Homo sapiens: one gene and its partner. The protein of the gene in region 1 interacts with the protein of each later gene in a biochemical or structural test. Each region holds a gene or a part of one and is shown in the gene's direction. Other genes may lie near its edges. The genes, in order: CHRM3 and RGS7.

Region 1 (10,630 bases):
GCATGAGGAGCTACTGGGCTCCGGGTGTGTTTGTGAGCGCACTCGTGTGTTGAGCGTTTGTCTCCCATCTCCCCATTTGGTTTCCTGTCATTTCTAAGAAGGCTAAAGCTGGCACCCGCCAACCTCGCAGTGGGGCCGCAAGTTCGGATTGCATTTCAGGGGGCGAGAAGGCAAATTTGGCACTTCGAGTAACACTTGGGCGAAGGTACCTAGCCTAGTGCGCATCTTTACTGACCCGGGGAGAGTCTGCACTCGCGAGGCAGCGGCCGCTGGACTGCACCGGTTCTCCTCTTTGGAACACTTCCTCAGCATAGCCTCCTAATAGCGAGGTTAATTTTTGCGTGTTTTTAAACGGCGGGGGCGGGCGGACAGTTGACTCCAGCAGCAGAATTCACTTGTCTACTTCGCGGTGTGCGTGCTGGAATTGAGATCCTGTTCTGCATGCTTGTGCGTGTGTCCGACTCTCCTTGCACGCATTTGGAAGTGGTAGAGGCAGCAGGGATTTGGGAACTGCATCCATATGGATAGGTTTCAAGAATGCAAACCTTCATTTGTCTGCAAGTGTTACTGGAACCTGTCCAAAGGCTGCAAGGATATGTCCCCTCGATCCCCGCCAGTGTCCGTGTTTGCAATGTGAAAGGGCGGCCCTCTTTAGGACAAAAATGTATTTATCAAAGCGATGTGTGGTTAAGAACACTGGTTATTTCACCATATGCTTTGCACAGACTTTTCCTTTCTCTCTTGCCCTCTGAGTTCCAAGACAGATAACCTGTCCCCTCCCCCCATTTTGACCTTTGTAGGTTACTATTTGAAAAATAATTTTTAACTGGGTGCAGTGATTATATAGTCCAGATAATTTCATATTGTGAGATCGTTATATCGCATGAACCATTCATCATTATTTCCTGTGTTTAAAACAATGCCCATGTATTTACTTAAGAGAGACTATGAACATATAGTTCAGAAAGGGGAAAACTAAACCTAGAGCAGATACCTGCATATAAGCGTATTGTAGTGGTAGCACGTTAATAAAAAACTAAGGTATTTCTGTTCCAAATATTGTGGGATAGACGAGGTGTTGAGTGCACCCTCTTGTTATAAGAGCTGATATCCCGAAGTATACATGTGCAAGGAACATGCCTGCTTCTTCAGTGTGCATTCCAACATGCCACAGAAATGTGGTTTACATCATAGCTTCTACCGCCGAATAGTCTATCTTTAGATTTTGTTTACATGGTTTGTCTCAATTAGCTTAATACATAATTAGCTATTGTTGGGCTAGAAAGCACGTTATTTTTGTAGTGGTTTCCATATGGAAATATAACGTTCGCTTAATTACTAATTTAAAAATAATGACATTGCCGGTCGGATTTAGAATGTTTCTCTAGGTTGGGGGGTATTATGAGATCGAATGTAGCACGAAAATAGCAATGTCGAAATATTGTTTTTTAAATAACGTTGCGTCATTAATCGAATGAACATGACAGTTGAAAAAGAAAATGAGATAAAAAGTAGACTTTGAAAAATCTTTATAAATTTTCTGTGTGGAAAATTATTGTAAGGGAAAAATGTAATTTGGGAAAAGGAGCAAATGTGGAATTGGTCAAGTTTTAAAGAAAGAACAAGTGTTATAATGAGTAGTTCTGTATTAAACCTACATTTAAGCTTATTTAGGAAAGTTTGCTTTAAAATTTAGAGAAATCTATGATGAATATTCAGTACCCTACTTTTATTCTGGGGTAGGGGGAAGTAAAATGTCACTTCAAAAGTATTATTTACTTCTGAAGATTATTTAGGCATGTGTAAAAGTTCTTTAGAGTGTACCTTCTCATTTTTTCCTTATAAAGACAAATGATTTAATTTCTTAACAAAGAAAATTTGTTATAAATTAGAGTATGTAAAAATGTGAAGTTCTTTTAATGATATTTTAGCCTTTAATTGCAGGCAACCTGTTGAAAGAGGGCATGGAAAAAATGTGAAATTGGCAGACATAGAATTTCTTAGATTCACACTTGTAAATTGAATAGACAGAAAGTTAAACGATATGGTTAAAAGCAAAGTTGCCTTATGTATTTGTAAATTATAAAGTAATACATATTTTCAGATTTTTAGTTAAAATCTCTGTCATTTTCCCAGCCAACATATTGTTCTTGCCTAATAACTTTGTTAACATTGGCAAGCTCAGTTGCTTACTGCTAAATGGCCTGGACGATTCCAGTGTGACTATTAAGAAATTGGGTCTTGTTTGCAGTGCCGGGAAGTTTATACTGGGAACAGCTGTGGTGTAGTGGCACTTTAGATAGGAGATGAATGAACCGTGAATCATATGAAGATGGAGACTGATCAGTATGCAGAGAAGTGTATCTGTCCTTCACTTATGGAACCTGATTTTATATCATATGATGACTAATAGCATTATTCTCACAGTGTGATTTTGGAGGATCAGTGAGTAACTAGAGATGTTGTCTTTTATGTTTGTGAATTTAAAATGTATTCTCCTTACATAAGACTATTGTAAAAGGTATCTATGAGCTTAATAAAATTGTAATCAAATCCCTCTACCACGTTTACTTTTAAAAGTTAATCAGCATAATAAAATGTGCCTTTATGCTTAATTGTTTAATATAGTGTTTTCCTAGATGCAATATATTTTTCATCTATAAAGTTCAGCAAGTCCAGCAGAAGCCCTGTTCTGAAAAATTACTAGCCTTTCAGAACTTTGGAATAAAATTTCAACATCAATGGAAAGTTTTAATTTTATGAAGAGATAATCTAATGTATATGACAGGAGGCAAAATCAGTTAAATTAGAAGTTAGTTTCTGGTGTCTGAAAGGCCCTATCTTCTCCATTAGGGAATATATCTTTGTTCAGATCAAATGCTAAGCAGAGTATTTCTTCAAATCACTCATCACTGCATTGCTCCCTCTGCCCACCCTCCACGGAGAGGGTGTGCAGGTATGAAAGGCTTCCCTCACTTTTTTTTTTTTTTTTTGAGATGGAGTCTCACTCTGTCGCCCAGGTTAGAGTGCAGTGGCATGATCTTGACTCACTGCAACCTCCGCCTCCCAGGTTCAAGCAATTCTCTGCCTCATGAAAGGCTTCCCTTTTCATCAGTGAACTAGCACCTGGAGAGCTCTGTTAGCCTGCTACCTTCCCTAGCAGTTGCATGCCCCAGACAGTATAGATCTCCATTAGTGTTGTCTTCAATGCAAGAAATAAAAATAATTTTGGTCTGGGCACAGTGGCTCATGCCAGTAATGGCAGCAGTTTGGGAGGCCAAGGCAGGAGGATTACATGAGGCAAGGAAATCAAGATCAGCCTAGGCAACATAGCCAGACCCCATCTCTACAAAAAGTGTAAAAACTTAGCCAGGCATGGTGGCGTGCACCTGTATTCCTAGCTACTAAGGAAGATGCAGTGGGAAGATAGCTTGAATGCAGAAGTTCGAGACTGCAGTGAGTCAGGATCATGCCACTGCTCTCCAGCCTGTACGAGAGTCTGAGACTCTGTCTCTACATAATCATCATCATAATAGTAATTTTGGTTTGGTGAAGCAATTGAAAATATTAAACCATAATGTGGCTTATGTGATAACTGTGTGACCTCAAACATTTCATTCCCCACTGTACACTTGAAGACCATAGTAGTTGCCCTGTCCATACCATGGATTGGTTTTGAGAATCCAGTGCATGTGGATGTGCTTTTTGAACAAACTCTGAAATGCAGTGCTTGATTGGAACCCAGAGCCCCCTCAGTACACCATGATGGACAGCACTGAGCGCCAGTATGTAGTGGCCCTCTGGCTCAGTTTTTGGCCTCTGTGTGTTGTTTTCTATCCAGAAGTTTTGGCAGCTTGCAGATTCCCCAGCCTCTGGCAGGCTCTCTCTTTTAGGCTGGCGATCTGCATTCTCCCACCTGTTGGAACTTCCCGCTCATCCCCTCCTGAAGGCCAAGGACTCTGGCTGACGTGCACCTTCTTAGCTTCCTCTGCTGAGGCTGCAGCTGCAGCTTGCCACATTGACACAGACCTAGGGTCCAGTAGTGATGACAGGAAGTCAACAGAAGGAATATTCTGAGCCCCTGCCAGCTTCTCACCAATTGTGCCAGTTCATCCTGAAGCCATCCGGAATATGAACACTTTGAGAAAAACAATGGTGGCCAAAAATTAAAAACAAAAAACAAAAACCAATTTGATAAACAGTAGCTGGCAGATGCCTTGTGGGCTTTGAGACCTTGCCTTTCCAAGCCTGCTCTGCATGGGACTCAGGAGCCTGGCCCTTCTGATTCCACAACCAGTGCAGAGTCTGTCCTAACCCTAGTGAGCTCTAGCAATTCTCATGCCCCCCTCACCTCAGTTTCTCTAACTCCTGTCATATTTACCATTTCGTAGGACTAGGATTTTATTGAGTTTTCAATTTGCACTTTCAGTACTGGATTTAATGTCTGGCCTGGGAAAATTTTAGCTATGACCTTGGCAGTCAGCCTCGCCCTTGCCAAGAACTTCTCTCCAGGAGCAAGACCCCTTTCTTTCTATTCTGTCTCTGATTCAATCTCAGTGTGACAAACCCTTGGACCTAAGGCACAGCTCCTCTCCTGACAGTGCATCATTTCCGCCTGAGACTTGTAGTGCCCGGTTCCACTTGACAAATAAATTCTCCTTGTCTGTCATTGTTGGCAGGATCAAATCTCAGTTCTCCACACCTCTCCCAAGCAATGTAATTTGAGTGGCTGACTATCCACTACAGAATTAATCCTTCATTAGGTCATTTGTTCTAGCCCAGTCCTAGCCTGCTTCCTGTCCCCACTGTTCCCTTGAAATTTGGCATGCCAGCTGAGCCATGACATCGTCTACCTTCTGTCACCTCTAGCACAGGAAGTGGTGCTAATGTAGACATCCTGGTTCAGGCAGGATATCCGCCGACTACTGCTGTTCAGATAAAATTCAGGTGAGTTTAAACCAAGGTGAAATACTTTCAGCCTGTTTTGGAGAGAGTTCCCAGAGAGAGGGGCTACCAAGTGTGTACTTCCCTGCATTTATGGCTGTGAAGTGTTTTGGTGCTCTTCTACTGAAGCCTTCTAATTTACCATAGGTAGCTATGGCTATAGACATAGATACATATAAAAATATTCTGTCACTAAACTGTAGGAAAAAGGAGCTGCTAACAGCCTTTGTCTACATTTTTTAAGACTTGTCACTTTGGAGTACATTTTCTCCCACTAGAATTGCCCATGGGATCCAGACTGGAGGGAAACCTGGTTACTGCTAACTATTAATACATACAGGCCAATTCTTGCCCACAGCCATTTGACATTCCATCGAGCTAGCTCTCACTTCCATTGAAACCTAATCCAGTGGTATTTTGTAGACTCACAATCCATATAAATTTTGGCTGAGCATAGTGGCATACACCTGTAGTCCCAGGTACTCGGGAGGCTAAGGCAGGAAGATCACTTGAGGCCAGGAGTTCAAGGTTATAATGTACTATGATTGCACCTGTGAATAGCCACTGTACTCCAGCCTAGACAACATAGCAAGACCCCCATCTCTTCAATAAAGAAAGAAAGAAAGAAGATCCCATATAAATATTAAATATTGTTGGGTTTTTGGCTTCAAATTGACAATATGTTGATGACTATATTTAAATGTATATCCATAGTCATTTAAAAATGTTATTGAACACAGTCTTTTTTGTGATTTTTCAATTTTCTTAGTGCAAAATAGTCTAAAAGCACAACTTCTGTTGTGGGAGGTCTCTCAAACGATTTACATTGAAAAGAAGTTCTCATACTTGAAATAGACGTGATGATCCTCCTGCCGTGTTTCCTGTGCTTTCTCACATGCCCGATAACACATGCCACATGCAGTAGCTTGTGTGAAGGGAGAGGTGATGGGAATCTGGAATGGCCATGATGTTTCTTTATATGGAGTCCTCCTTTCTTCTCTCCTCACCCCAGATCCTTTCCATCATGCAAGGACCAGCCAAACTCTTCCAGCTTTCCTTGAGCGCAGCTATCATTCTGTTTTTCCCTGTGACTAATTATTTTAAATCCCTTGATTCATTTGAATGTTAGAAACTGAAAATCGGTCTGACTAAACAACTACAAATCACTTCCCTCTACTCTGAATACTAGTGGCACTCACCATTTTTAATATAAAATTTGATGCTCAAGGATAACCCAGGTAGTATTTATTTTGATTCTCTCCAAAGAAGTTACCTTCATGAGAGTATATAAGTAAATATATAATAAATACATGTTTGAGTAGAATGAGTAAATGACTCAATCATTCCATCTATCTACCTATCAATTATCTATCTCTTTATATCTAATCCACCTATGTTCATTTACATAGGTGTTGTATATACATCCATTATCACATCTTTCATATCAGTATCATCTAATGTGCAAAGTACCATGGACATTCTGTTTTGGATACACAGTAAGTCAAGGGCTCTGCTTTTCAGAGCATATGATCAATGTGAGTGTAACTAAACAAATCTGGGTTGGAAGGGGATGTTAGATGTTGCGTGAATTTCTTAGGTTTTAAAACAGAAGTTTATTCTTTCACAATTCTGGAAGCCAGAAGTCTGAAATCAAGGTGTTGGCAAGACTGCACTTCCTCTAAAGACCCTAGGGGAGAATCCTTCCTTTCTTCCTTCAGCTCCTGGTAGCTATCTGCATTCCTTGACTTGTGAGCATATCATTCCAATCTCTGCTTCTGTGGTCACGTTGCCTCCTCCACCTCTTTCACTGTCTCCTCCTGTATATGCCTGTCTTATAAGGATATGTGTGATTGCAGTGAAGTCCCAGCCAGAAAATCTAGGATAAGCTCCTCCTTTCAAGAGCTTTAACTTCATCACATCACATCTTTTGTCATATAAGGTAATCACAGAACCTGGGGATTAGGAGGTGGGCACATCTTTTGGAGGGACCGCCATTCAGACCACTGCAGATGTCATTAATGAACAACTTTTGGCTTTGGACCTCTCTCTTGTGTTAAACTGTGCAGTCTGTATGTTTGAGAAATTAACACTCACCAGGGGGGTCATTCCATTTTCACAGAGCAGTGAGATGCAGATCCCCTTTATATTGAGCCAAAAATCTAATTCTCATTGTACTTATTTGCCTTCTTAATAATTCTGAGAATTATGATGAGAACACTTCTGATCTTTCTTCCACAAGAAAATCTTTAAAGTTGAGAAGTTTAAAGTTATTTCAACCTGGTCCTATGTGCCACTTCTAAATTTTCATGATTTTTCTTAACCTTTTCAATTACACTCACCGAACAGCAATCACACTCCCCTAATCTCATTACCCTCTGACTTTAAATCTTTTGACTCCTCTCATCCACCTTCATGAGGTTTATAGCAATGACTTCTCCAAAAGTCACCTGTAACCTCTTAGTCATAAAACGGGTAGCCCTTCCTTGTCTGTCCTGGTTAATCTCTTAGCAATCCCTTTAAACTCCCTTAATTTTCAGAGAATTATACCTACCTAGCTCTCTTCTCTCCTCTGGTTCTTTTCTCTTCTTCCTGTTCCCCACCCCTATTTTCTGCAGAGTGTAGGGCTTTCCAGCAATTTCTCCCTGGTTGACTCCCATACTCTTCCGTTGCCTCTCCTTTTGTACCTGCCTCTGTCTTCACGATTTCAAATACCCTTTCCATGTGGGTCACTTGGCTTCAGTAAGGAGCATTTCCATGTGCTTGCTGGATAGCACAGCCTTCCCCTCCTTCTTCCTCATCCTGTTCCCCTCCTGGGGTTCCTATTTCTATGAATAGCATGACCATCCTACAGCTCAAATGTTATGAATAAATCAAGTGATCTTGATTTATTCTCTTCCCTCACCTCCTACATTTAGCCAGGTACCGAATTCTAATGATTCAACCAAGTAAGATCTCAACCTTCTTGGCTACTTTCCCCTCCTGCTACCAATATCTTAATTCATCATTTCTGCAACTTAAATGTGCATTCAGATCACATAGGGATCTTGATAAAATGCAGACTCTGATCCATGAGGGCTGGGTTGGGGCCTGAGAATCTGCATTTCTAACCAGCCTTCAGGTGATGCAGATACTGCTCCTCTGTGCTCAGACCACACTGAGAAGAAAGGCTTTATGTTTTAGCTTTGTATCTTTTCTTAGTCTCTGAGCTTCCCAGATGATCTCATTGATCATATTATTGCCTTTGATCCATTTTACACAGATTACTGTTATTGAGGACCAAATGTGATCATCTTTCTCCTACCCTTGAACACCTTCTTTGACATCACCTTCCATTGCCTGTTGAATAAAGACTAAATGTCTCGCATCAGCTTCACCCTATTTCATGGCTTGGGTTTGCATGTTGAGTTCAGTCTCAAGTCTCAAGGTCACCCTTCACTTTACCCTGGTACTTGCTGTTGCAGGTATCCTCATCCTCTGCCACGTTCTCTTGCTGCATAGGATGCCCTTTGTGCCACATCATCAGGGATCCAAATTTTAGCAATTTGTCAAGGACCACTTGAAACGAATTCATCTTCTGTTACTCTATCAGAATCTCACTTTTATCCCTGATTACATTCACTCTTGGTTTTAGTGTGTGTGTGCCACAAATTGTTTGAAATATCAGACTGTGAACTCCTTGAAAGATGCTGTGTTTTGTTGGTCTTTGACTGCTTTCAAGTATCTAGTGCAGAGTCTTCTTCATAAATGCTCAGTGTGCACATTCGCATATAAAATATGTAAACAGGCACAGTGGCTCACTTTGGAAGGCTGAGGTGGGAGGATGGTTTGAGGCCAGAAGTTGAAGACCAACCTGGGCAACTTAGCAAAAAAAATCTCTACAAAAATTATTAAAAATCAGCTGGATTTGATTGTGCACCTGCCTGTAGTCTCAGCTATATGGGAGGCTGAGGCAAGGAGGATCCCTTGAGCCCATTAGTTCAAAGCTGCAGTGAGCTGTGATGGTGCCACTGCACTCCAGCCTGGGCAACAGAACAAGATCCAGTCTCGAAAAGAGTAAATATAGTGTTTTTGTTGTTTGTCTCCTTATAAAAGTAATATATGTCATACAAAAATTCAAACATTATGGAAATATATATCAAAAGTAAAAGTCCACCATAACCCAATGCCCCCAAAGACAACTATGGTTAACAGTTTGATGTCACGACAGGATTGCCTCTGATATTTTTCTATACATATTCTAACATTTACTCTATACAAAACTGGGATAATAATAGACTCTTGCAACTTGACTTTAAATGTAAATCTATCTCCTCTTCTTAAAATCTGCAACTTATTCCAAAAGATTGACTGATTTAACTGCATAAAAACCAATCTGCTTAAAATGGCCTAGCAATGTAGAAATATGTTTGCTTTGAATTTCTGATCACTTAAATATGCCTTTATTCAGCAATTTCTCTCTCTGCTCCTCAGATTGTGCTAGACTTCGGATCTGTAACAGTAAGACACAAATACTACCCCGGAAGTTCCAAGCTATACTTATGTCTTTAGGCTAATGTTGAGTGATGAACTGCGGGTGAAGTAGTAATCATTTATCTTTGATGACAAGTTAAAATTATCATATTTGATGACGTGAACTCTCAGATTGCAATTTTATACTGAAATGTAAGTTTTCAAATTATTTTGCTCCATAAAGAATAGGTGACTCATTTTGAATTCTGAATGTGTACATATTTATCTATCATCTAACACACATATGTATAGGTATATTACTTTTTGTTCCATTAATGAATATAAATTTGAAATAAAAATATAGAAAATGTTGTGGCCGGGTGTGGTGGCTCACGCCTGTAATCCCAGCACTTTGGGAGGTCGAGATGGGTGGATCAGGAGGTCAGGAGATTGAGACCATCCTGGCTAACACAGTGAAACCCCTTCTCTCCTAAAAATACAAAAAATTAGCCGGGCGTGCTGGCACATGCATGTAGTCCCAGCTACTTGGGAGGCTGAGGCAGGAGAATCTCTTGAACCCGGGAGGCAGAGGTTGCAGTGAGCGGAGATCGTGCCACTGCACTCCAGCCCGGGCAACAGAGCGAGACTCTGTCTCAAAAAATACATGTATTTATATATATATATATATATTTCTATAAAATATATAAATATATATTCTATAAAAATATATCTATATATATTTCTATATATATATAGAAAATGTTGTAAAAGATATACCAAAAATTTTAGTGTATTTAATAAAACTACAATTTAGGAAGAAGCAGTGTGAAAAACAAAAGGAAAATGTTATGTGAGCCGTGTCTTAGAATGCCAGTAACTGGGGGCACACAATAAAGCATTTGTTGAAAAGAAAATTCTTTTAGAAGTAAACATCAATATTCCCTTTGAAATTTTGGAGAGATAAGTCTTCATAATGATGAATGTTTGTTACTGATACCATATTTGTCATTTAAGAAATAGTTCTGTTGTGGAACTCGGGAAGGTCATTTTCCTGGGTAGAGGGAGGACAGGAGTATGTTTGAGGAACCTAGAGATAGCAGCAAAGGAGACTGTATCTTATGAAGAAGAAACTTAAAAGTAGAATGTAAGACAATAAAAGATTACAACTTTGAATCAATAGGAGACTTTTGCAGTCTGGGTTAGTGAAATTATATAAATAATGTATTTTTTTCTTTTT
Region 2 (10,630 bases), 1.4 Mb from region 1:
ATTCCTCTCATTCTCTAAGTTTTTGAAAACATGCTGATATCATTTGTATCATCATGAGTAAATAAATAAGTAATAAGCCTTACCAGCCTCACCTAGCCAAATAAAAACATCGCCTTCTCTCATTAAAATTACAGTCTATTGGTAGATACAGACAAGAAAACAAATCACAGCACAAAATCATGGGTGTTTAGTTGGGAGAAGCAGAGAGGGATGCCTAGCCCAGAGTTAGAGATCAGCGAAGGGATACTAGGGGAAATCGCTTCTAGGCTAAGAGCTGGACAATGGGGAGGAGATAAACCATCAAAACAGGAAGAGAGAAGATGCCTTTGGAAAAAGAGGATAGCATGTGCATACTAGGTTTCAGGCATGAATTGAATTCCTGCCAATTTCTTAGTTCAAGCTTTAATCATTTCATATCTTAATCATTCTATGCCGTACTAGACTCTAGGCTAAGTGATTATATCTAAGAAATATTAGATTATCTTATATATATACACACACATTATATACATACACACATATACATATATTTCTTGAGTATCTACTATATTGCCTATCATATGTTTCCTTAGTAAGTATAGATCAGTAGATAAATGAAAGATGTAGATTAATTCTTGAATACCTACAAGACACCAGAATATATTTTATATCTACTACTTTTATAAGTATGCTGTTATATTTTGCATTCATTATTTCTGATCATCACACATCCAACCACCAAAACAACATAAAATGTAAATATTGCCTCATTTTATAGATGAGAAAAGCGTGGCTGAGGAAGGTTAAGCCGAGAAAGTGTGGCTAAGGAGGTCAGATTGCATGTAAGTGGCATTCTTGGTTTCCTACAAACCAGTACCAAGCTACTGTCCACTGCTCCCCAAATCTGAGCCCTACTCTGCTTCCACTGACATATCTGTGTCACACACTGAAGGAGACAAAATGGTCCAGTGGTCAACAGGGCTGTGAATTGCACTTAAAATAAAATAACTCTCCGTGCATCTTACCTAAACAGCTGCCCTCCTGCTATCAGTGAGTGTGTCACTCGTCTGAGCATTTTTTTTCAAATATTAGGACAGGAAAAAAATAAGAAGCACTGTTTCTCGATAACTACTTATGCTTCAAATATACCCTCTGCTCTCCCTAATAGAGAGCAGAAACTTGAAATTTTATGATGTATTTCCCTCATTCTTTTTTTTGAGCAAAACACATAGCATAGAGCAAGTGCTAAGAAAACATAGTAATATCATGAGTTTTTATCTTTGAGTGACTAAAAATATGCCAAGTACTTTTCAGTGCCTTCTATATAATTTATATCATTAGTATACATTAACGGAATTAATTTAATCAACTAATCCAATGGAAACCAATTAATCCAGTGGAAACCCAGTGAAATAGGCGTTATCATCCCATTTTACTGATGAGGAAATCAAGAATCAAAGACATTAAAAATACTTACTTAGCTTCCACCTATATAAAGGATATAGGATTTTTTTTTTTTTTTAAGAGAGATGGGATCTTTCTCTGACACCCAGGCTGCAGTTCAGAGACACTGTCATAGCTCATAGCAGCCTTGAAATCCTGGGCTCAACTGATCCTCCCACCTCAGCCTCCTGAGTAGCTAGGACCACAGGTGCAAGCCATTGCACCTGGCTCCTCCATGCTATTAAGCTATTACAATAATTACAGTAATGGTGAGAATAAGAAAGGCAATGATGCTGTTAGAAAGACCGTGTGAGGGAGTGGTTGTGAGCATGTCATCTGCTGCAGATCTTCTGGGAGCAAACCTCAGCTGTGACAGTAATAGTGAGCAACCTTAAATAAGCAACTTAATCTTCATATGCTTAGTTTCCTCTTCTCTAAAATGAGGGAAATAATAGAACTTGCCTAATAGAATTACTGTGGGAATTAAATGAGTTAATATAGGTGAATCACTTAGAGCAGTGCCTGCACTTACATAACAGTGTAGGTGTGGTTATTAACTTCTCAACCCCTTTATATTTTATGCTTATTTCCAGGCCCATTTCAGATGTCACTGGATTTAGAATAGCTTTGTCTAGATCCCCCTTTTCCAATCCAGCACTTGCCCCAGCAGAGGGGCTCTTTCCTGCTTGCCTTTCCCAGACCGTCTAGTTCGTTCTCTTCCTAGAGAGCCATTCATGTACTTCCTGGTGTTACGGCCAATTAAATGGTTTATCTTTTTCTCTACTCATTCTTTGAGGACAGAGACTGTTTTGATTGATGTGTTCAGAGTGTGCTGGCATGAACTTGCCTGAGCATATGTTAATTTCAACACTTCTGCTCCCTCGGATTATGCGTAGTATTCCCTTTTTTTTTTTTTTTTTTTGAGATGAAGTTTTGCTCTTGTTGCCCAGGCTAGAGTGCAATGGCATGATCTCTGCTCACTGCAACCTCCACTTTCCGGGTTCAAGCGATTCTCGTGCCTCAGCCTCCCGAGTAGCTGGGATTATGGGCATTCGCCACCACACCCAGCTAATTTTTGTATTATTAGTAGAGATGGGGTTTCACCATGTTGGCCAGGCTGATCTCAAACTCCCGACCTCAGGTTATCTGCCCGCCTCAGCCTCCCAAAGTGCTGGGATTACAGACGTGAGCCACCATGCCCAGCCTCGCATAGTATTCCTATTAGAGTGCACAGTGTCTAAATCTGTGTTTTAAGAGGGAAAGGTCTTGAGCCTTCCTTTCTAAAAGTCATGGTGGTAGTTTCCTGTTTGAGGCGTTGTCAAACTTAGATTATCCTCTGCTACATATATCTATAAAAAAACAAAATCTGGAAATGAAAACTCAAAAATCACTAGACTGAGTAGTAGTTGATATTCTAATTCTAGCTCATGCACTTCATTACTGATTTCTGATTATTTATTAATGGTCAAGTTAAAGCTTAGTAGTTACGAAGGTACTGCTGATCACCTGTGCCTCTCTTAAGACTCTGTAGCCTGAAGTTTGCTGTCTCTGTGGCCCTCTTTGCCTTTCTTTGACTTCGTCTACTATTAGAGCAGTAAGAGTGTTTATGGAGGATAACACAGTCCTAGCAGCTCCTTTTTCTAGTAGAGTGTTTGTTTCTATTAACAAATTATGATATACTCATTTATCTTTTAAACATTATTTCTAGAGATCTAACCAGCAAGCTCTAGCCTAGAGCAAAATATTGAAGAAATGCAACCGATTAATACAATGTGGCCCCTTCTCACTAGACTTTACCACTTGCTATTATCAACCAAAACACACTCCCAGGTTCTTTCAGTATACATATGGTATAAATAAGTCTATCTTCAGAAGTAAGTCAGTATATATTATTCCGTGGCTTCTGAATTGCAATGATGCCTCTACACATTTCAACTTTTCAAATAATTCCATGTGAAAGCTTGCTGCTTTGGTCATTCCATAACTCTCTCAATTAAATTACCTTAACATTAGTTAATTGTTTTTATTTTTCCAGCCAGAGCATTTTCTGATCTTATGTCCAGGCCTCTTTTAACTCCAGCAAAGCTTCTTTGTAATTCCCTTACCACCTAGAACAGAAAAGGCTCTCCATACTAGCCCCCATTGCTGAAATGGACAGAACATCCAAAGAACACAGTGTAATGCACAGCTTTATCTCCCAATTGGAGGCTCCATGTCCCACACCTTTAATTCCCTTCAAACTCCTCTTTGTTTTCAATCAACAGTCAGAAGTGCTACTTTCCTTAGGTAAAATCAGTGTTATACGGGGCTCTGACAGATCTGCTTTTAACAACAAACACTTAGAAGAGAGAGTTTTTCATGTTTCTTTATATTTTTATTAATATTTTTTATTTATATTTTTAAAATATTTTTATTAATATTTTTATATTTTTATTAATAATTATTTTTCATAATAATCTTCCAAAGAAGATTATCCTTTGAACACAGTCAGTACCACCCTGATACTGGAAGCCCTCAGAGAAAGTGAGCTGGCTGTGAGTCGTCATGATGAACTGCATGATCCGTAAATGTCACAAGAATTTTCAGATGATGGGCCATCAGAGTAAACACCCGATCTCACATTCTGCATAGATTCTGGCTGGCAGTGGAGGACCTGAAAAAGAGGCCTATTAAAGAAGTACCCTCAAGAGTTCAGGAAATATGGCAAGAGTTTCTGGCTCCCGGAGCCCCCAGTGCTATTAACTTGGATTCCAAGAGTTATGACAAAACCACACAGAACGTGAAGGAACCTGGACGATACACATTTGAAGATGCTCAGGTGGGTGTACGGTGAGCCTCACACCACAAACGTGCTTCCGAGAAGTTGAGCGTTAGATGTATTCATTTTATTTTCATTCTAAATGGCAGCTATTTCTAACATTTTCAATTTAGATAACTGTAAAATAACTCTAACTGATCTAGGAAGGAACAAAGACACATTAAACTGAATAGTTTTTTTAAAACCTGGGAATATTTTCTAAGTTTGAATATTTTTATATGAAGGGGCATATTTGAAATATTTTACAACTTTTACTTCATTTTCTACTCTGTTTGTCCCCCCAGTAAGTGAGCAAACACCATCTAATGATGACCCCACCTCAGTAAAAGATTTTTTAAAACATTTTTTTAAAAAGATTTAAAATCTTTAAGGCATCTTCAATGTAGACATTCTAAGACTCTGACATTCCTGAATTATTCATTATTATAAATTATTCAAACTGAATTAGCTTAAAGTTATGTCAAACTCAAACCAGTTTTATCTCTGGTGAAAAAAAAAATCAAACATTAGATTCTGACATTTCTTAAATTTTCAAGTTAATTTTTTAGCCTACAGAAAGAAAAAATAAGGAAAACTGATTCTAACTTCCTAAGGCAAATTTTCAGTCATCTTTTCTCAAACTGGATCTTAATTCCCTTTGTAGAAACAACTTGAATTTCTGCCTTCTCTCAAAAAATGTTGAAACTTAAGAAGAAAAATAAACTTGTAATGAGGGGATAGTGTTTCCTAATAATGTGGTATTTTATTTTATTTTATTTTATTTTTGGAAACAAGTTCTCTCTCTGTTACCTACAGTGGCATGATCATGGCTCGCTATAGCCTTGGCCTCCCAGGCTTAAGCAATCCTCCTACCTCAGCCTCCCAAGTAGCTGGGACCATAGGCATGCACCACCATGCCTGGCTAATTTTTTTTTATTTTTTTTTGTAGAGACAGGGTGGGTCTCCCTATGTTGCCCAGGCTGGTCTCCAACTCCTGGGCTCAAGCAATCCTCCCACCTTAGCCTCTCAGAGTGCTGGGATTACAGGCATAAGCCACTGCACCCACTCCCTAATGATGTGTTGAAGTTGGTTTTTAAATCAGAACGTGCATACTTCATAACTTCTTAAACTTCTTTTGGAGAAGAATATTAATTCTAAAAAGTACCTTTTAAAAAACACACATTACTAAAATAAAATATAGAAGATGAAGAATGAGATACACGAATATCCTTCCTTATTTCCACTCTCTATAGAAAATATATTTCTCCTTGGCTTTCATTTAAAGAAATCAGCAACTGTGTAGTAAACTAACATGAATTTTAACAGCTAACTGGATACCTATCCCATGTGGTTCAGCCATGGTCTCCAATGTAGAAATAATTACACTCTAGAGAGACACAGGACAGAGAGCAGGCCAGAAACTCTGGCCCTGCTGCTCACTTCTCTGCTGATTTTTCTTTCTTTCAGTCCAAGATAAAATGCCGAGCATCTTTCTAGAGCCAACAATGTGGAAAATGTTTGGAATGCCCTTCCTGAGGTTTAAAATAGAATTTTTTTTAGTTATCGGTGTCATTTAAAAATATTCTTGCCTAAGAGGATCCTCTTTTCTTACAGAAAAAAAAATTCTATAGAAAACAATACCACTTGGCCCTAGATTTCTTTTTCAGTTAAGCTCAGATATTTAATTCTAGTTTTTTTTGTGGTTTTTAAAAAAAATCTGATCGTAAGGTAAATTGCCTGGGTTCTGATTTCAGCTCTGCTCTGTGACCACTTCTCCACGCCTCAGTTTCTTCACCTGTAAAATGGACATAATGGTTACCAACCCCATAGGGGTTTTGTAAGGCTTATATTAACTAATACAGGAAAGCACTTAAAAGAGTACCTGCCATATACCCAAGTATATTTGAGCACTTACTATCCACACCCCATGCTTTGCTACACATTTATTATTCCTTTAATCATCACAACAATGCTATTTTATAGATGAGAAAATTAAGGATCAGAGAGATGAAAAAGTTGGCCTATATTTATCCCATTTGTAAGTGGTAGTTCTTGAGCAAGGTAGAATGTGAATCTCAAAATGCTTAACTCCAAAACCAGCCATTGCTCTACTTTTCAAACAAATTCCCATACAGTTCCAAACTTAACATCCTTTGAAGATCACCATTGGGCTAAGTCTTGAGATTTAATCCTGAATGTCTTTAAATGAATTTAAAGTAACTTCAAATTATTGCTGTTGTGTTTAAGACCAGAGAACTGGAGTCATTTCTTGAAACATCTATTTTCTTCAAGAAAAAAAAAAAGAAAGAAAAGAAAACTGGAACATTCAGAATGCTCTCCAATAGTTCCAAGCTCTACACCTAACTGATATTTCACTAGAGTTGGAAGATCAAGGCACATGTTAGCTCCCTGAGCTGCGGTAGACCAGAGTGGAACCTCCCTAGATTGGGTCTAGATTGAATTGAATGAGTACCTTTTTCCTTTTTTTTTTTTGACTTGTCTATCAAAATTCATCATCAAAACAGAATATTGCAAACTTCTTAGGGGCAAATGATCAACTATTTACCTAATCTGTCACTGGGTAAGTAATAAGAAAGAGCACACAAATTTGGAGATTTAGCAATTAAATATCACAAAATTTATTTTTGGACTTGTGCTCTGACCCAAAGTGGGTATGGAAGACAATTTTCCATGCAATTTGTACCAAAGAGATGATTTGATTCTTCTGGGTAGTTGGCACCCTCCCAGTAAATGTAGAGGCCAAAGGTATCCAGGATGATTACTCAGTCTGAGTCAACATTACCCACTTCAGGCCTGGAGTAGTTTTAAGAGACAGCAAATTTAGTTATATTCTCTAGTGATCTATATAAGTCAACAACTTGATTTGAGGTAATTTTATGACATTTTATTAATCAAATTCCATTTTTGTAATGACTGGATGTGATTTGCCTCCTCAGTAGCTCCTAAACCAATTTAAACAATGATCTATGAATGAGATAATGAATTTGAAGATCTAAATATCCTGTAAATAGAAGGTATTCTAATCAGCATTGTTATTACTATTTTTCGCTGCTACTAGATTTGTTCTTTAGCCATGTGTGACATCATGATATTTTACTTTTCCCAAGAAATCATAAAGAAGCACCTCAACCATTATTTCTTTTTAGGAGCACATTTACAAACTGATGAAAAGTGATTCATACCCACGTTTTATAAGATCCAGTGCCTATCAGGAGCTTCTACAGGCAAAGAAAAAGGTACTGGTTTTTTGTGAGTTGTTTTTTCTTGGCCTAGTTCTCAGTTATAATTATTTGGAGTAATTACCTCTGCTGAATCCAGGGTATTGGACTAATGGTAAGTGAACATACTCCAAGACCCTCCCCCAAACCTTTGCATTTTATAAGGGCCATTTAAGTTGTTTCTGTTTGTTTATTGCTTATTGTATTACTTTCTGTTTGTTTGTTTCTGCAGATGTTCATGCTTTGCAAAATTTATTAGAAGCTGTTTTCATGTTTCATGTTAGTCTTCTGTATGCCTAGTTTCATGGAATCAAAATTACAATAAAGAAAAGAAAGTAACAAAGTCATTAGGTCAAAAACTTGAAGAGAGGTTTCTTTGTTTAGTAAGCTAGAATGTATGTTTTGAACCACAGGCCTCATAACTGAAAGTAGACTCACCTTTTTCAATAATAGATGACAAAATGTCGGAATGTTTGCTTCCGAATATTTTTATTTGGCATTTATCCTGAATCACTTAATATCCCTGTGATGAATTTTATACACCTAGCATGGTAGCCAAGCACATTATGGGGGTATTGTAGTAGACCTCATTATTCAACAATGTTAATAATCAATGTCTCTCTGTTCATAACTCCTTATGTAATCAATATAACAGGGAAGAGAAAATCTGGACATAAACATCAACGTCATTCATTCTTTTTAATGTTAAAATAGTTCATAGCTTCTTGAAACTCTGAGTTTAAATTATAATTTTGTGTAGTTCATGATCGTCATGTAGGCTAATAAGATTTTTAAAAGTCCATTGCCTTTACAACTAGAAATGGATACTTTGTAGTAACACTATCCAGTACAGCAGTCACTAGCCACGTGGGACTGTTTAAATATTAGTTAATTAAAATTATATAACATTCTAGCCAAATTTCAAGTGCTCAGTAACCACAGCTAGGGGCTTCTGTATTGGACAGCATAGAATGAGATTTCCATCCTTTTGGAAAGTTCTATTAGACATTAATGCTCTATGGAATTAATGATGTTGTCAATAGGAATTTTTTCTCATAAAAGTTTTGAGGAAATTCTGAGGATATGCTGCTAGATTTTTAAATATTTAGGCTCTGCAAATGTCAGTATAAAGGCTTCACATATCCACTTTATTTTGGCTGAATTTGATTTTGCTTGAATCACACCATTTTGTTTGTACAAGGAAAGTTTTTGGTGTAAGCAGAGCCCATGTCCTGTGAGAAGAAGCCTCCCTTGGCGGCTCTCCAACCTCTATGGGCCTTCTGATTTAGAACATGGATTTGGTGTTGCATCATTTCATTATCCTGTCTTTTTCTGCTCTGTTTTCCTTGCTTTCTTTCTTTTTTTTAATCTTCCCTTATTTCCCTTCATCCTATCCTACCCCACATACGTAAGTCTGGAAACTCAATGGATCGCAGAACATCTTTTGAAAAATTTGCACAGAATGTGGTAAGTTTAATTTTTTGAGGAATTATGAATCATTAAGTCCAATGAAATTTTTCCAATTTCCCTATTTCTAGCCCTGTTACCCACCTTGCATTCTTGATATAACAGCAAAAGTGTTTCTTTTATTCAAATTCAGAACTTCATGTTTTCTGCTTATCTTTCTGTCCCATCCCTTTCCAAAGTAGAAAAAGATGTTATATATGAACAAGTTATCTGTACAGAATTAAAGTTTGGAAAGAAGTTTATATTACAACATATAAAAGGAAGGAATAATAATTATTCTTTATATTTTATTTTTATTCCTTGTATTCCTTTCTTTATTAAAGATAGTGCATGTATTTCTATGCTCTTTCCCTTAGCCCTTCCTGAGGCTTAAAATGTTAAGAACAATGAGGGTTCTATGCGTTTTACTTCTGCAGAGAGAAAATGATCTACTGAGCAGTTTAAAATTAAAGATTTTATATGAGTGGTGGTTGGTGACAAGATATGCCCCACCAGAGACCCACTAGCCTGCCTTTCTTATTCCTTATTTTTCAGGAAGGTGTTGAAAACTGTTGCATAAATCACCTGAGAAACCAGTAGTTTTCCTACCAGTGTTTTCTTAGTATCTTGCCATGTGTTTTGATGATATATATTTGTTTGTAAGATTCTTTTTTTTGTATTGTGCCAGTGCCTTTGGAACTTTCTGACATTGTGTAAGCTCAAACTAAAGCCTTCAACACATTTATTTTTATAGGGCAGAAACATCCCTATTTTCCCATGCCATAAAAACTGTACACCAACACTGAGGGCCAGCACTAACCTGTTATGAAAAGAGGTAGAAAAATCTTGGTTTATACTCAAGTTTGTCTGCATTGTCTGTTGAGTTGTGTGGTTTAGCTCCATGCTGCTGTGTGTGTGTGTGTTGTGGCTTTTGCTGTGATGGCCAGTTCAGTGGAGTTATGTGTGTTGAAATGTGAGCAAACTGGATTCAACAAAGATAATGGCTTTTGTTTTCAGTTTCCTTCAAGGATCCTTGTGGTGGGGAATGTTACTCATTTCTACTTGTGAATTACCATTGCAACGGTACACAGAGTATTTGAAAGAATTTGAACAGTAATATATACTGTGAACATTCAATGTGATTGCATGAATTAAAGGGATGGAGAATGATGGACTCCAGGAATTAATCACATTGTAAATAAATTTTATGAAATTTTGGCTGGCACTATTGGAACCTCTGTTCTTTAATACAGAATTTTCTGAAGCATGCCTCATAAGTCACCATGGGGCAATAAAGACAATGTCAAACAATTCTCCAAGATTTTGCTGGAGAAAGTGACTATCAGATAATGTGAGGTACTCTGTGTATTGTTTAAGAAGCATTTCAAGTTAATCCTTTTCAAACGTAATGCTGACAGAATATACTGTTCTTGAAATTACAATGGAAATTTCTGTGATATAATTTAAAATAGTGATGTAACCTGGGGAAGATGGAAAGGGGAAGTCAAATGGTTGTCCTTCTTCCAACATCATATCTAACCCACTTCTCAAACTCTTAAAATAGTACCATATGGTCACACACTGCAAACTTTAAGAAAGGGCCAACAGGAAACAAGGGGAAGGGAGGACTGATCATCCACACCTTCAATCAAAATTCACACAATTGCCACCTCTATTCTAAACCATGTGCTATGTCTTGGGACCATGTAGAAAGTATAGACTTGCA

Evidence for each region.
Region 2: the proteins of CHRM3 (region 1) and RGS7 form a complex in vitro, tested with the Homo sapiens proteins (one study listed by BioGRID).

What each region holds. Positions count from the first base shown.
Region 1 is NC_000001.11:239,387,624-239,398,253, forward strand, and holds part of CHRM3 (muscarinic acetylcholine receptor M3), read left to right. Parts: intron 1-10,630.
Region 2 is NC_000001.11:240,799,750-240,810,379, reverse strand, and holds part of RGS7 (regulator of G-protein signaling 7), read left to right. Parts: intron 1-4,053; coding exon 4,054-4,240; intron 4,241-7,386; coding exon 7,387-7,476; intron 7,477-8,871; coding exon 8,872-8,925; intron 8,926-9,658; coding exon 9,659-9,733; 3' UTR 9,734-9,739; intron 9,740-10,630. UniProt on the Homo sapiens protein: GTPase activator component of the RGS7-GNB5 complex that regulates G protein-coupled receptor signaling cascades.